4 separate regions of the Homo sapiens genome follow, and regions 2, 3 and 4 are each reported to be linked to region 1. The links are microRNA targets in miRTarBase. Many come from high-throughput screens and were not tested one by one. Region 1 holds a microRNA gene; each other region holds the end of a gene's coding sequence.

Region 1 (3,447 bases):
TCAAGACCAGCCTAGGCAACACAGCGAGACCCTGTTTCTACAAAAAATAAAAAAATTAGCTAGGTGTGGTGTTGTGTACCTGTAGTCCCAGCTACTTGGAAGGCTGAAGTGGGAGAATCATTTAAGCCCAGGAAGTGGAGGCTGCAGTGAGCCATGATTGTGCCATTGTACTCCAGCCTAGGTGACAGTGCCAGATCATCTCAAAAATAAATTATTAGCAGTGTCTTCCCAAAACCTGGTATTTCCTTAATTCCTCCATATTGTACCTTAAGTGTCTGCCTCTTCCAGTCTAATGTCACCTTCCTGCTCTAGAAATCAACAGGCATCAACACACCTCAGCAGCCCCAGCACCCCGACGAGCCCAACACAGGAAGGCATTGTCCAGGTGAGCATGCCCCAAGGGAGGACCCTGGACTTCACTGTTCAACTCTGGTGTTCTTGGTTTACTTTGAGAAACTGTTCTTAGAGATTCCTCACAGAGAGTTATCAAATGTCCAAAGAAAACAGTGCCTGGTAGAACCTGACTGGCCTGAGCACTGAGCCAAGTATACCACAGCAAACAGAAATGATGCTTTTCAATGGGTTTTCCTCCACTACATGGGTGATAGGTAGAATGTCACATTTGCTAAGTGATGCTTCCATGAGCAGAAGCTTCCATTTAAAGATGACTCCCACAGAAGAGGAAAGGAGAAATAAGGGCCATCCTGGGCACCTGCTCTGCCCTCTCAGGAATCAAGAAAAGACGGCTCCTGTTTCCAAATAGACAGATGGTAAATCGATGCCTCGGTTAAACACCTGTCACCTACTGAATTCTTATAGAAACGCTTAACCTCTGACCTTTTGAAAAATGAAGATTAGAAGAACTGGAAGTGTGTCTTTCTCAGATGAATTTTACCTTATTTTATATAAAGCAGGCATGCTGGGATTGGGGTCTTTCAAACATTGTAAGCCTCACTGGTAGCAAAAACAGACTGAGACAAGGAGTTAGAAAGCATTTCTATGTACAACTCACCAGTTCCCTCCTCTCAGTCTTCTCTGCGATTTTTCCTGCTCACACTTTCACTGAGTGATGGTGACCCCCAGTCTGCCACAGTGGCCCATCTGTGCCCACTCCCTGGTGTCACCACCACCAAGACTTGAGGACACAGAATACACCTGCATGTCTCACACAGATCCCAGCCTCACCCTGGCCCACATCTGCAACTGAGTGCTGGACGCCTTCCCTTGGGCACACCCCAGCACAGACTTGTCTCATGTGGGTTATCCCCATGGTCCCCAACCCTGGCAGGCTCCTGATCTCAGTGAGAATGTGTCACATCCCCACACCCAAGTCAGTACCAGGAGAAATGTTCCTGGCCCCTGCCTCTCCCTAGCCCCTCTCACTTTCCATTGAGAGGTGAGGCCAGCTGGACTCCCTGGGTCAAGTGTGAACTTGGGGAGCTTTTCTGTCTTACAAAAGGATTGTAAAATGCACCAATCAGGAACTTTCCTGTCTTACAAGAGGATTGTAAAATACACCAATCAGCACTCTGTAAAACGCACCAATCAGTGCTCTGTAAAACACATCAATCGGGGCTCTGTAAAACGCACCAATCAGCACTCTGCAAAACGCACCAATCAGCGCTCTGTAAAATGCACCAATCAGCAGGATTCTAAAAGTAGCTAATCGGGGGAAGGATTGAAAAAAGGGAACTCTGATAGGACAGAAATGGAACAGGGGAGGGGCCAATTAGGGAAAAAAAGCTGGTCACTCCCCCCACCCACCCCTACCGCCCACCCACACCCACACGCGCCCCCCCACCCACACCCCTACACCCCCACCTGCAGCGTTAACCCACTCCGCTGTCTTTCCCTGCTGTGGAAGCTTTGTCCTTTTGCTCTTCACAATAAACCTTGCTACCACTTACTCTTTGGGTCCGTGCTATCCTTAAGAGCTGTTAACAATCACCACCAAGTCTGTGGTTCACGAAGTCAGCAAGACCACAACCCACCAAGACCAACTCCGGACACACCATCAGTTACTGAAGTCCTGTTACTTCTCTTTACTCTTCTCTCAAAAAAATCATTGCCACTGCCACCCTCAGCTCAGGGCCCCCGTTTCCATATATATTCTGCACTCCCTTCATGGGACTCCTGCTGGGGTCTCAGCCCCTCTATCTCATCCTCCCAGAGCAATCCGTGTTGTAGCGGGAGCCTATCAAATCCACAGCAGCAGCAGAAAGCTAGGTTCAGGTGCCGCGGCTGGGGTGGAGCTGTGGAAAGTTAGTGTTTCATGGGTAGGAGGTTCAGTCTTATAAGAGGAGAAAGTTCCATGGATTGTTGGTGGTGGTGGCTGCACACCAGTGAGAATGTCCTTAATGCCTCCAAACTGCACACTTACAAATAGTTAAGACGGTAGATTTTGTTATGTATATTTTACCACAATTATACATTTTAAAAGTAAAAAACAGGACTTTGATCATGCCTTCTCCAACGAAAAATCTTGAAGGGCTGCCCAGCGCCCACTGTACAAGGCACACGGCTGACTAGGACGCAGGGGCCAGCGACTGGGCCCCACGCAGCCCCCCAAAACAGACTTCCATTCACACCGACTTCCATCCACACCTCCGTGTCCACCTACGGAAGCCGCCGCAAAAGGACCTTCGAGGTCTCCCGGCTGGGAAACAGTCTCCCTAACCACAGCCCTCAGCCTCTGGCCCAAGAGGTCAATCTTGTCAATAAGGTCGGGTGCCCCTTGAATTTACCACAGTAGAGGGGAGGAGAGGAGGCGAGACAGGAGAGGAGGCAGCTCCCCCGCCCCAAACCTTCCATGTGGGAGTGTGCGAGGTGGACTCGGAAACACGCCCCCGAAAGGGTTCGACAGATACAACGGCAGCGCAGCGCAGGGGCCTGGGCCTGCGCAGGCCGGCGGAGCACAAGGGACGCATTCTTCCCCGCCGCCCGGGCCCCATGTGACCGCGCCGACAGCGCGGCTGCCCACAGAGACTCCCTTCACCCCCGCTCCGGGAGCAACCAAAACGGCGAGGCCCACAGGGCCGACAGCGCCCTCGCGGGAGGCAGCCGGGCTGGGGCCTCTTGCCAGCCCTCGGTGTTCGATGCTTCATGGGTAGCCCATCCTCTCGGCGGCGCGCTCGCAGGGAGGGCTCAAAGGCAGCTCGGAGCGGCCGCAGGGCCGTGCAGATGTGCAAAGAGACGCACAGAGCACGGGCGCTTTGCAGACAGCAAGCCCATACATCCAATATTTACCACCAATACCAGGGCAGATGACTTCGGTGTGAGACGTGAGGTGAGTTCGAAAAGGCCACGCACAAGCAAGGGGCGGGGGAGCGGGCTAACTGGTGGCCTCTCCCCCAACGCCCACCGCACGCCCCAGTCTGCCAGCCGCGGCCCCCTTCCCAAGCAGGCCTGTCCATACAGCACAGTACTTGGTGGGCTCCGAAGACCCCA
Region 2 (3,223 bases), not on the chromosome of region 1:
TTTTTCTCTTCCCTTCCCCAAATTATTTTTCTATTTTCAGTGACGCCAAGTCCAGTGAAAGGCAAAGGGAAAGTGGGTCGCCCCACAGCTTCAAAGGCATCAAAGGAAAAGACTCCTTCTCCCAAAGAAGAAGATGAGGAACCGGAAAGCCCGCCAGAAAAGAAAACATCTACAAGCCCCCCACCCGAGAAATCTGGGGATGAAGGGTCTGAAGATGAAGCCCCTTCTGGGGAGGATTAAAAGTGATGATGGTCTGGGGAGAGATTTTATTAAAAAAAAAAAGAAAAAAAAAGAAAAAAGAGGGAGGAAAAAAAAGAACCTACTTAAGATAGAACATGGTTTTGGCTATGGCTTGACTCATGGGCTTTCAGTGCTTTTTTCCATTTGTTGAAAGTAACATTTCTCTCTCTCTCTCTTTTTTTTTTTTTTTTTTTAAAGCAAACCATTGTATGTGTAAGTGTTTAAGTTACCTTTTTGTCTATTGGTCTCTTTGCCAGCCCTCCCCTTTCCCAATGAAAGCCATGTCAAATTAATCACTGGATTGACTGCTTCATCTTTTTATTTTTAATGAAAGGTGTACCACGGTTGTAAAGCAATAAGATTTGAGATGAACACTATTGAAACTTCGCTTTTTGCTAAAAAATAGCAAGTTGAATAGTAATCAAAAAACATAGAAAGATTTTAGTTCAAAATGATTGCTCCTTTCTCTACCTGGACTTTTAAAAAATCAATTGTCATCTAATATGAGTTTATTTGTCTATAGACACAAGTATCAATGTCTAAAAAAAATCATGACTTTAAACTTCCACCGATGAGGCAGGTAGGAGATAAAGATGAATTCTGAACTGTTACTAAAAGTACTCATTTTTTACCTTGTAGGGAGGGTGGGCAATGGGGTTACCTGACCTTATTTGAGGGTATGGGCTTTCTTTTTTATTTCATCACTTGTTATCTCAAAGAGACTCGGAGCCAGTGATCCTTTTATCCTGCTACAGTCTTTAGGGAGCTAAAAAAAAAAAAAAAGCAGGGGCTGCCAAAACTCTTGATTTCATATTTCCTTCTCTAAATATATATGTATCCTGTTTTTTGGATAAAATTTTACCAAGAATCCAAAAAAAAAAAAACCCTAGAATTTAATCAACAAGATCAGTCTACAGGTCACAGTGGATTTCTTTTCAAACTGACAATGTTTAGGTTTTAAGCAAATAAAGTTCCAGTTAATGTGAAACTCAGTCACAAAGAGTTGAGATTTTTCCTTTATGAAATAGAATTGACATTCTTTTATGCTATAAATGTGCATTCAGGTCCCATTAACCATGCTCTGCTTTTATTTGGGGATAGAACATTTTCTTTTTCATATCCCGATCTTCCCATTTCTTCATAGAAATGTGATAAGAAGTACATCCCTGTGATCCTGCTGCTTCGTAGAGCACCACTGCACACCCTACCCCGAGTGCCAACCACCTCTGCTATAGGACACTATTTTCCTGGCCCTATTCTTCACTTACTTCCCATCCTGTCCTTGACTAGGAATATGTTAAATGCTGCTCCCATACAATTCAGTTAGCTCTTGTCTTTTTATTTGGTCCAACCCCTGCTTTACTGCTCATGCTGCTTAAAGCAGGAGGGACTAGAGAAACAAGGCATTTTAGGAGGCCTGTGTGCAGTTGAAAACCGACTTTTACACGCCTTATAAAAGCAGTCAGGAGATAGATCCGTAGGTTTGATCCTTCACATCTAATACCAGGCGCTAATGGGAACAAGGTTTAAAGGGTCCTGGTATGCTAATAAATTGAAAAATTAGTGAAATTTAAACTTCTGCCTTTTTTTCCTGCCTTTTAATCTAGATTTGCTTCCTCAATATCCTACTTTGTGGTTTACTAGGAACATGCTTACTCTGATCTTTTTTTAAAAAACACACAGTGGCAGAGTCATTTCACTATTGCACTGTGTGTTAAAGAATGAATAAGGAGTTTTCAGTTACATGGCCAAAAATACAGGACTTGAACATAAATAGCAGTTGGATCATTCTCTTTCATGACGGTTAAATTCAGAGGTGTGAACTTTGTAATGAGGGTGTTAAAGATTAATCTATTTGCCTAAATGGGTTTGTTCAGGTATCCATTTTTAACAAAGAAGTTTGTGTTCATATAGTAAAAGACCTATCAGTGTTTCCACCATGCACTTCTATTTTTTAGGAGTTTATAATTTTAAGTCTTACATTCCTAGTAACATTTGGGCTTTTCTTAGGTTATGTTTCGTGAAGATTTGGGGGGAGGGCTCTTTTAAAACTTCAGCCTCAGTTGTTTAACAGTCTCTTTAATATATTAATCTGCACTAACATCTCTGTGATATATGCACATATTTTAGAGGTAATCATGTCTTCTAGATTACTTGTGTGCATTTGATTGGGCTTCTTGTTTAGGGTCCCTTTTAAAATTAATTCATTAGATTGAAAAATGTATTCTATATTTCTGATAGACTGGACAGAAGGATCTGTGTCCCCAAGTGAGACAGGCTCTGAATAACCTTTGTTTTCTCCACTTTTTATTGATGATTTAAAACACTCTAGTCTTCCCCTCAAATCATGCATGCAAATAGGAGGACAGTGGTGGTGACTCAACTGGATACAGGTGCTCAATAGTCAGGCTTGATAGTGATGTCAGGACGCATTACAAGCTGTAAGCCGATACTGACTGGCCATTGGCACCATCCTTGACTAACCTTCCTCTTTTTCTCTAGTGTGCCTATGGTGAAATGGCAATAGCATTCACTGTCGTATTTTGCAGTGCTCAGGAAGTGGGACGTTAACTTTGAAGGTGCTTGTTTGTATTAGCTCTGCTAGGTTTACCTCTACAACGTAGATTTCAGCAGCTATGCTGACTGACACTACATTCTAGTTCTTAAGATTTTTTTTCCAGATCCCCCCTTCCCCAGCTAGACATACGTAGCATACTTTCATCTTATTCAGTCTTTCTGTAACCTGCTGCTGCTTTTAGTCCTCCTCACCTCAGATCGGAATCAATGGAGTGGGCCCAGAGGATACATTTTAATTCCAGTAATGGTAGGTAGATTTGTCCTGCTTTCTAAAACATCTCCTCATTTCATATTTCCACTCCATATTGATTCCATAAGGGAAAATTAATGGGTGTTTCCTCCTTTAGGGAGGTAATGCAAAGAGTGTGGACATCTTCTAATCTTGAGGAACAGTAGTTGATTTCCC
Region 3 (3,223 bases), not on the chromosome of region 1:
GCCTGGGCGACAAGAGCGAAACTTTGTCTCAGTAATAATAATAATAATAATAATAATAATACTCTGTCTCAATAATAATAATAATAATAATTTGTTTGCAGAATATAGATAGCATAGAAGGGATTTTTCCCAACTCTTGGTAAAAAAAACAAAAAAGTCCAGGTGCATGTACACAGGAAATGAGAATTTACCATGGGGGGCGGGGAAATAAGCTCCAACAAGCAATCCACATGTTATGCTAGCAGATGAGGCAGAGATCTTGACAGAGTGCTAAGCGTGAGTGACTAAGGAAGGTGCTGGGATGAGCTTCATTTCCCTTGCCAACTCTCCAATCCATTTAGATGTTCTATGAGGAATTAATCTCAAAAGCCTTCAGTACAACAGGGGAAGAGATATGCGTTGAAATTCCTTGACAAAAACCTCAAAGGAACTCCACTGTATTTCAAAGAGCATGAAAAACCACTTATGAAGAAAAAGACAAATGAAGTTAGAGAGTCTTATTACTATTGAGACTAAACCTATATTTAGAAGGAATCTTGGTAGACATATAGACCAAATCCAATGTAAGATTCCCTTTCACAGCACGTGGGATAGGTGGTTATTTTAACTGTTGGGCATTCACAGGAACAGGAAATCTTACTAACTTGAGTCTATTCCTCTTTAGAACAACTCTTATTAGACAATTCTTCCTTATATTGAAGCAAACATTTGTCACCTGTAAAGTTCCTCTTTGTTCTTATTTTTGCCCTTTGAAGCTACACAGAATAAATCTAATTCCTCTTCCTTTTCATAGCTCAATAGAAATTTCTAGGCAGCTATTGTATCATTCCCTCCTTGTCTGCACTCCCTTTCCAGCTATACCTTCTGTTCCTTCAGGGAAGCTACTCCCTTGTTCTTGCATCATCAGACCCTTTACAACCCTGGTCACCTCCCTATGGACACAATCAACTTATTAATGTCTCTCTTAAAATATGATACCCATAATTGAACTCAACCCTCCATTTAGATATGGACTAGATGGAGGGTTAATAAAAGCATGTAAGGCTTTTATTAACACCAGCTGACTACATTAGCTTTGTGAATAGCCATGATATATTTCTGATTCAACATTGAACCTCCATTTCTGTAAGGAAATATTTCTCTATAAACTACCGTGAAACCAGGTCTTCCTAACACCGTTCCCATCAACACCACACACATAAACACACACAAACACACACATCCACAAACACACACTCCACTCTGTACTTAGAGGGTTGCATTTTAAAAACCCAGAATATAGGGTTTCTCATTAATGCCTATTCAATCATCATTTTACTTTCAGTCTTAGTTCAGATATTTCAAAATACTGTAACTATTTCTATATCCCAGTGTCAATACACATTTAGACTCCAATGATTGTTCATTGAATACATTAATCTTGAATCCATCAGCCAAAAACTGGAGATATTTTTCATTTCTGCATCATCTACAAATCCAATGAAGTGTGCTTTCTGTCCCCCGACTTGTATTCTTCATGGGAGAAAACACTAAGATACAAATAAGAAGCAGAGGTGAGTAGGAACGGATGAAGGAAAAGAAGATTAATTGTCCCAGAAACAGATGAAGAAAAAGAAGATGGAGTGAGCGTTCTGACTCTTGGAATCAGAATATAATGTTCCCAACATTAGAAAAATATGGCTTTTCCACGTCTCTACCCTAGAGATGCCTTTTCAATCCAATCCAATACTGTGATTATCAAACTCTGAATTTTGGGGGAAAGCTCATTCAAGCTTAATTTTAAAACAGCTTTAAAAATTATCTTTGCAGCTTAAATTTCCTATAAAGTTGGGTTAAAGGGACATGCAACTGTCTATTGGTCATGAGGTATAAAAAGAACTCCCAAATGCCCCTTACAAATGCCTCAGGTATTATGTATATTTGTTTCAGGAATCAGAAGTGGACTGTATTTTTCAGTGTGAATTTGGGAATTCACTGAGATTGAATCTACCTCTTGAACTGAACATCATCTTATATTTAATGTCTCTTTTCTCCAAAATGAAGAAAACTAAGATTAATTTTGCCTTCCCCTCAACACCCATTTTGCAGAATGTGGGTCCATTCACAAAATTAAAAAGTCTCCTATTGTGCCTTTTTCCATTGTCTATTGTGACTCAGGATAGCAAATCCTGTGACTGAAACCTTAGAGAGATGGAAAAAGTGTTCCAATCTAAACGATCTAGAGCCAGGAGGGAAATGTCTTGAAAGCTTAACAGTTAAAGAATGGAGACACCTCAAAAAGGTCTAGTAAGACCCAAAGAGGAAATTTGTTTTGCACCTTTTCTGAACCTTTTCTAGACAGAGTGAAAGAGATGGATTCTTAATTAACTTCTCAAGACTGCCTTTGCCAGAAAGTTATGCGAGTGACAGATGAACATCAGAAGGCAATCGTGCTAACACTGATGTGGGAGGTTCTTTTCCTGACTGTAACAGTCACAACAAACCACATACCAGTGCTGTGAGATAAGCAGAGACAAGACAAGGAGGCTTAATTATACAGTAAGCTCCAACAGTCAGGTGAACCTCGTGCTTTAGGCATGACCAGAATCAAAGAGCCTCTCCAAAAGCCACCATTCTCAGGGTTTCCTGGTAAAATACAAGTAACTGCAAACAGGAAGATCTGGTATACTGTTCCCAACATGCAGTGGCCACAGCAGGTATTGACTGCAACTTCAGCTACTCAGGAAGACACCCTATCATGACTCAGGAAGACACCCTATCATGACTCTGGGATCAGGATTCCTTGCCGCAAGGCTTTGTCACTGCACTCCACACTCCTTGGGATTTTCCATTTCATCTCCTTCAAAGTCCGGCTTCAAACTCTTTTTTTGCTCAATTTCCACCTGCCAAGAATAGAAGTTGGAGATAAAGATCAAAAAGAAGAGAAAAAGCATGCAAATAAATAAGTAAACCAAAACTCCATAGGTACTTTGAAATTTCTTATAATTTTGCTAACATTTTGGGCGTTAGCCACATTGGAGCTACTGGCCCTGAGTATATCATGTCTCTCTCTTTGCACATGTTCTTTAACTGGTCTGTAATTCCCTTTCCCTCATGGTCCACCAGGAAAATTCTTATTCTTTGCCTTGTACATTTGGTCAAAGATCACCCCTTCTGTGAAGCTATTTTTGACTTATTAAGTAGACTTAGGTACTTCTCTCTGTGAATATTTCCACCGTATCTT
Region 4 (3,223 bases), not on the chromosome of region 1:
TATTTATGCTCACTTGCTGGTCCGCCTGCAGATGACTCTGAAGGAGTTTGCCATAATGAATGAGGACCAAGATGATGAAGAGTTTCTGCAGCAGTACCGGAAGCAGCGAATGGAAGAGATGCGGCAGCAGCTTCACAAGGGGCCCCAATTCAAGCAGGTTTTTGAGATCTCCAGTGGAGAAGGGTTTTTAGACATGATTGATAAAGAACAGAAAAGCATTGTCATCATGGTTCATATTTATGAGGATGGCATTCCAGGGACCGAAGCCATGAATGGTTGCATGATCTGCCTTGCCGCAGAGTACCCAGCTGTCAAGTTCTGCAAGGTGAAGAGCTCAGTTATTGGCGCCAGCAGTCAGTTCACCAGGAATGCCCTTCCTGCCCTGCTGATCTATAAGGGGGGTGAATTGATCGGCAATTTTGTTCGTGTTACTGACCAGCTGGGGGATGATTTCTTTGCTGTGGACCTTGAAGCTTTTCTCCAGGAATTTGGATTACTCCCAGAAAAGGAAGTCTTGGTGCTGACATCTGTGCGTAACTCTGCCACGTGTCACAGTGAGGATAGCGACCTGGAAATAGATTGAACTGATAGTCTAGTTGCATAGATTTCTCATTGTTTGGGTTGGAATACACGTCATTGTTTATTTTTGTTCCTTTGTCTTCTGGCTTTTCAGCTGTTCTTTGTAGTCCCTTTTATTATGCATAAAATAAAGAAATTCTTAGATTAAATCAGAATGCTGAATAACCTTGTAGCTAGCAATAAGGTGACTTACAGTTGTATAAACAGGAAGCCAGGCTTTTGAACTGTTTACTTAAGATTCTGTGGTGTGACATCTCTGTTATTGTTTCCAGTCAATATTTACAAAGCATCCTAAAGACAGGGTCTTGGAAATTGTCTTCAGATGATCTTAGAGGTCTCTGCCAAGTCTGAGAGTATAATTCTGTAGGTATTGTGTTATTTGCAACGTAAATAGTGCATTTTCTTAATCAAATGATTGTAAATTATATTTACTTGTAATCAGTTCCATAGCTTTAGACGGTGGTTAGATTTTTTTTTTCCCCACCAGGGTCTTGTTTAAAGGGGTGAGCCACCGCACCCAGTCCTGAGGGGTGGCCTCTGCTGCTGGATTTCATGTCTTCCTCCAGCATGACTAAGTCTGGAACAGCAGGAAGGGTTGATGCTTACTGACCTGGTGATGTTAGAAGACAAGTAGTTTATGGATTTAAACATTAGAGCTGGAGTGGGGCTGGAAATCTTTGTAAAGGAAGTTCTTTCAGTAAGATGCCCCTGCTTGTCTTTGTCTCTTTTTTGTTTAACAAGGTAACTTTTTGTTTAACAAGGTAACTTTTTGTTTAACCTAGATTTTTTTTAAAACTTTTTTTTTTTTTCATATTGGAAAAGTAATTCATATTCAGTAGAGGAAAACTGACCAAAACAGAAGCAAAAATAAGAAAATTAAAATAATCTCTAATCCTACTACCTAGAATAAAACACTATTAATATTTTGGTCTGTTTCCTGCCAAGGTGTTTTCTGTGTATACATGGATATTTTGTTTGTTTTTAAACAAAACGATGGGATCATTCTGAACATACTGTTCTATAGTATGGTCAGCTAATAATATATCAGACCTTTTTTTATATTATTAAATATTCTACAACTTTTTAAAAATGTCTATTAATATTCCATCGTATAGATGTGATATAATTTGCTTGATGGTTGTCTCTTAAAAAGAAAGATAGCAAATACTTTTTTTAAATTACAAAAGTGATAGATGTTCATTGTAGAAAATGTAATAAACACTGTTAAGACTTAAAAGCCATATAATTCCACCAACCAAAATTAATCCCTTTTGTCATATTTCTAGTCATTTTTATAGCCTTTTTTTCTATGTATTTATAATAATTATCATTTGCGTTTTTTTCCTTTTTTTAACTTTAAAAATGTATATTCTAGGGTCAGGGGAAATGTAATCTGGAATTAAATATTAGCCTTAAAATTCACAATTTTGATTTTCCTGGCTTTTCAGGAATTGACTAACTGTAAAAGAGTCTTGAAAGTATTTAGTCAACAAACAGAGTGCATTTTTTTTTTTTTTGACTAAGAAAGCTCGTTGTAGTAGAAAGGGTGGAATGTATTGAAAATTATTAGAAGCAGGGAAGTATTGTTAGTCTAGCTTATTTCCTTTCAGTCTTTTTTCAATATTTTTATAAACATTGAGTACTTACTGAATTTAGTTCTGTGCTCTTCCTTATTTAGTGTTGTATCATAAATACTTTGATGTTTCAAACATTCTAAATAAATAATTTTCAGTGGCTTCATAATATTTCATCATTTGGATATATAATAATTTATTTAACCAGTCTCTTTATTTTTATTTATTTATTTTGTTTGTTTTCTTTGAGATGGAGTCTCGCTCTGTCACCCAGGCTGGAGTACAATAGCGTGATCTCGGCTCACTGCAACCTCCACCTCCTGGGTTCAAGCAGTTCTCCTGCCTCAGCCTCCTGAGTAGCTGGGACTACAGGCACATGCCATCACGCCTGGCTAATTTTTGTATTTTTACTAGAGACGGGGTTTCACCATGTTGGCCAGACTGGTCTCAAGCTCCTGACCTCAGGTAATCTGCCCGCCTCGGCCTCCTAAAGTGCCGGGATTACAGGCGTGAGCACGCTGCACGGCCTAACCAATCTCTTTATATTGGTTATTTAGATTCTCAGTGTTTTGCTGAACACTTAATGCCTTTGTGTTTTGGGCTATATTTTGAATTATTCTCATAGATTTCTAGAAGAGGAATTACTGGGCAAATAGGGACACTTAAAAATAGCTTTTACAAACCATCTTCTGTTCTCATTGAAAATGAGAATATATTATGCACTTACAGGGAACTTGACTTTGCTTTTCAAGAACAGAAGTTCTAAAATACAGTAGGGCTGGGTGTGGTGGTTCATGCCTGTAATTCCAGCACTTTGGGAGGCTGAGGCAGACATAGTGAGGCCTCATCTCTACAAAAAATAGAAAAAATTAGCTGGGCACGGTGTTGTACCTCTAGTCCCAGCTACTTGGGAGGCTTAGTCAGGAGGATCTCTTGAGCCTGGGAGGTCAAGGCTGCAGTGAACCATGATTGCACTCCAACCTGGGCGACAGAGACCCTGTCTCAAAAAAAAAAAAAAAAAAAAAAATTAAAAAAAAGAGTAGACATGTAATGGTAATGGAGAAATCCTA

What was found. The annotated mature microRNA hsa-miR-4499 reads AAGACUGAGAGGAGGGA and lies in region 1 at 1,017-1,033, opposite strand. An mRNA with a match to its seed (bases 2 to 7 or 8) in the 3' UTR can be bound and repressed. Matches are read on the target gene's strand: a 7mer-m8 pairs with bases 2 to 8, a 7mer-A1 pairs with bases 2 to 7 and ends in A, and an 8mer does both.
Region 2: the mRNA of NUCKS1 is a reported target of hsa-miR-4499. Seed matches in the 3' UTR shown: 8mer at 1,147-1,154 and 7mer-m8 at 2,968-2,974.
Region 3: the mRNA of STON2 is a reported target of hsa-miR-4499. The part of its 3' UTR that is shown has no 7-base or 8-base seed match.
Region 4: the mRNA of PDCL is a reported target of hsa-miR-4499. Seed matches in the 3' UTR shown: 7mer-m8 at 2,186-2,192.

Annotation. Positions count from the first base shown.
Region 1 is chr13:20,432,814-20,436,260 of GRCh38, forward strand. MIR4499 (microRNA 4499) reads right to left here and starts at 1,033; the gene lies at 965-1,033. The region is part of intron 4 of CRYL1 (crystallin lambda 1); the gene reads right to left.
Region 2 is chr1:205,715,297-205,718,519 of GRCh38, reverse strand. It overlaps NUCKS1 (nuclear casein kinase and cyclin dependent kinase substrate 1), which reads left to right. Exons shown (of 7, transcript NM_022731.5): 7 at 41-3,223. The coding sequence ends at 240. Among named protein-coding and RNA genes, the nearest start is that of NUCKS1, 33 kb to the left of the region's middle.
Region 3 is chr14:81,265,616-81,268,838 of GRCh38, forward strand. STON2 (stonin 2) reads right to left here. Exons shown (of 8, transcript NM_001394390.1): 8 at 1-2,882. The coding sequence ends at 2,799. Among named protein-coding and RNA genes, the nearest start is that of GTF2A1-AS1, 46 kb to the left of the region's middle.
Region 4 is chr9:122,817,445-122,820,667 of GRCh38, reverse strand. PDCL (phosducin like) reads left to right here. Exons shown (of 4, transcript NM_005388.5): 4 at 32-2,571. The coding sequence ends at 583. Among named protein-coding and RNA genes, the nearest start is that of PDCL, 9.5 kb to the left of the region's middle.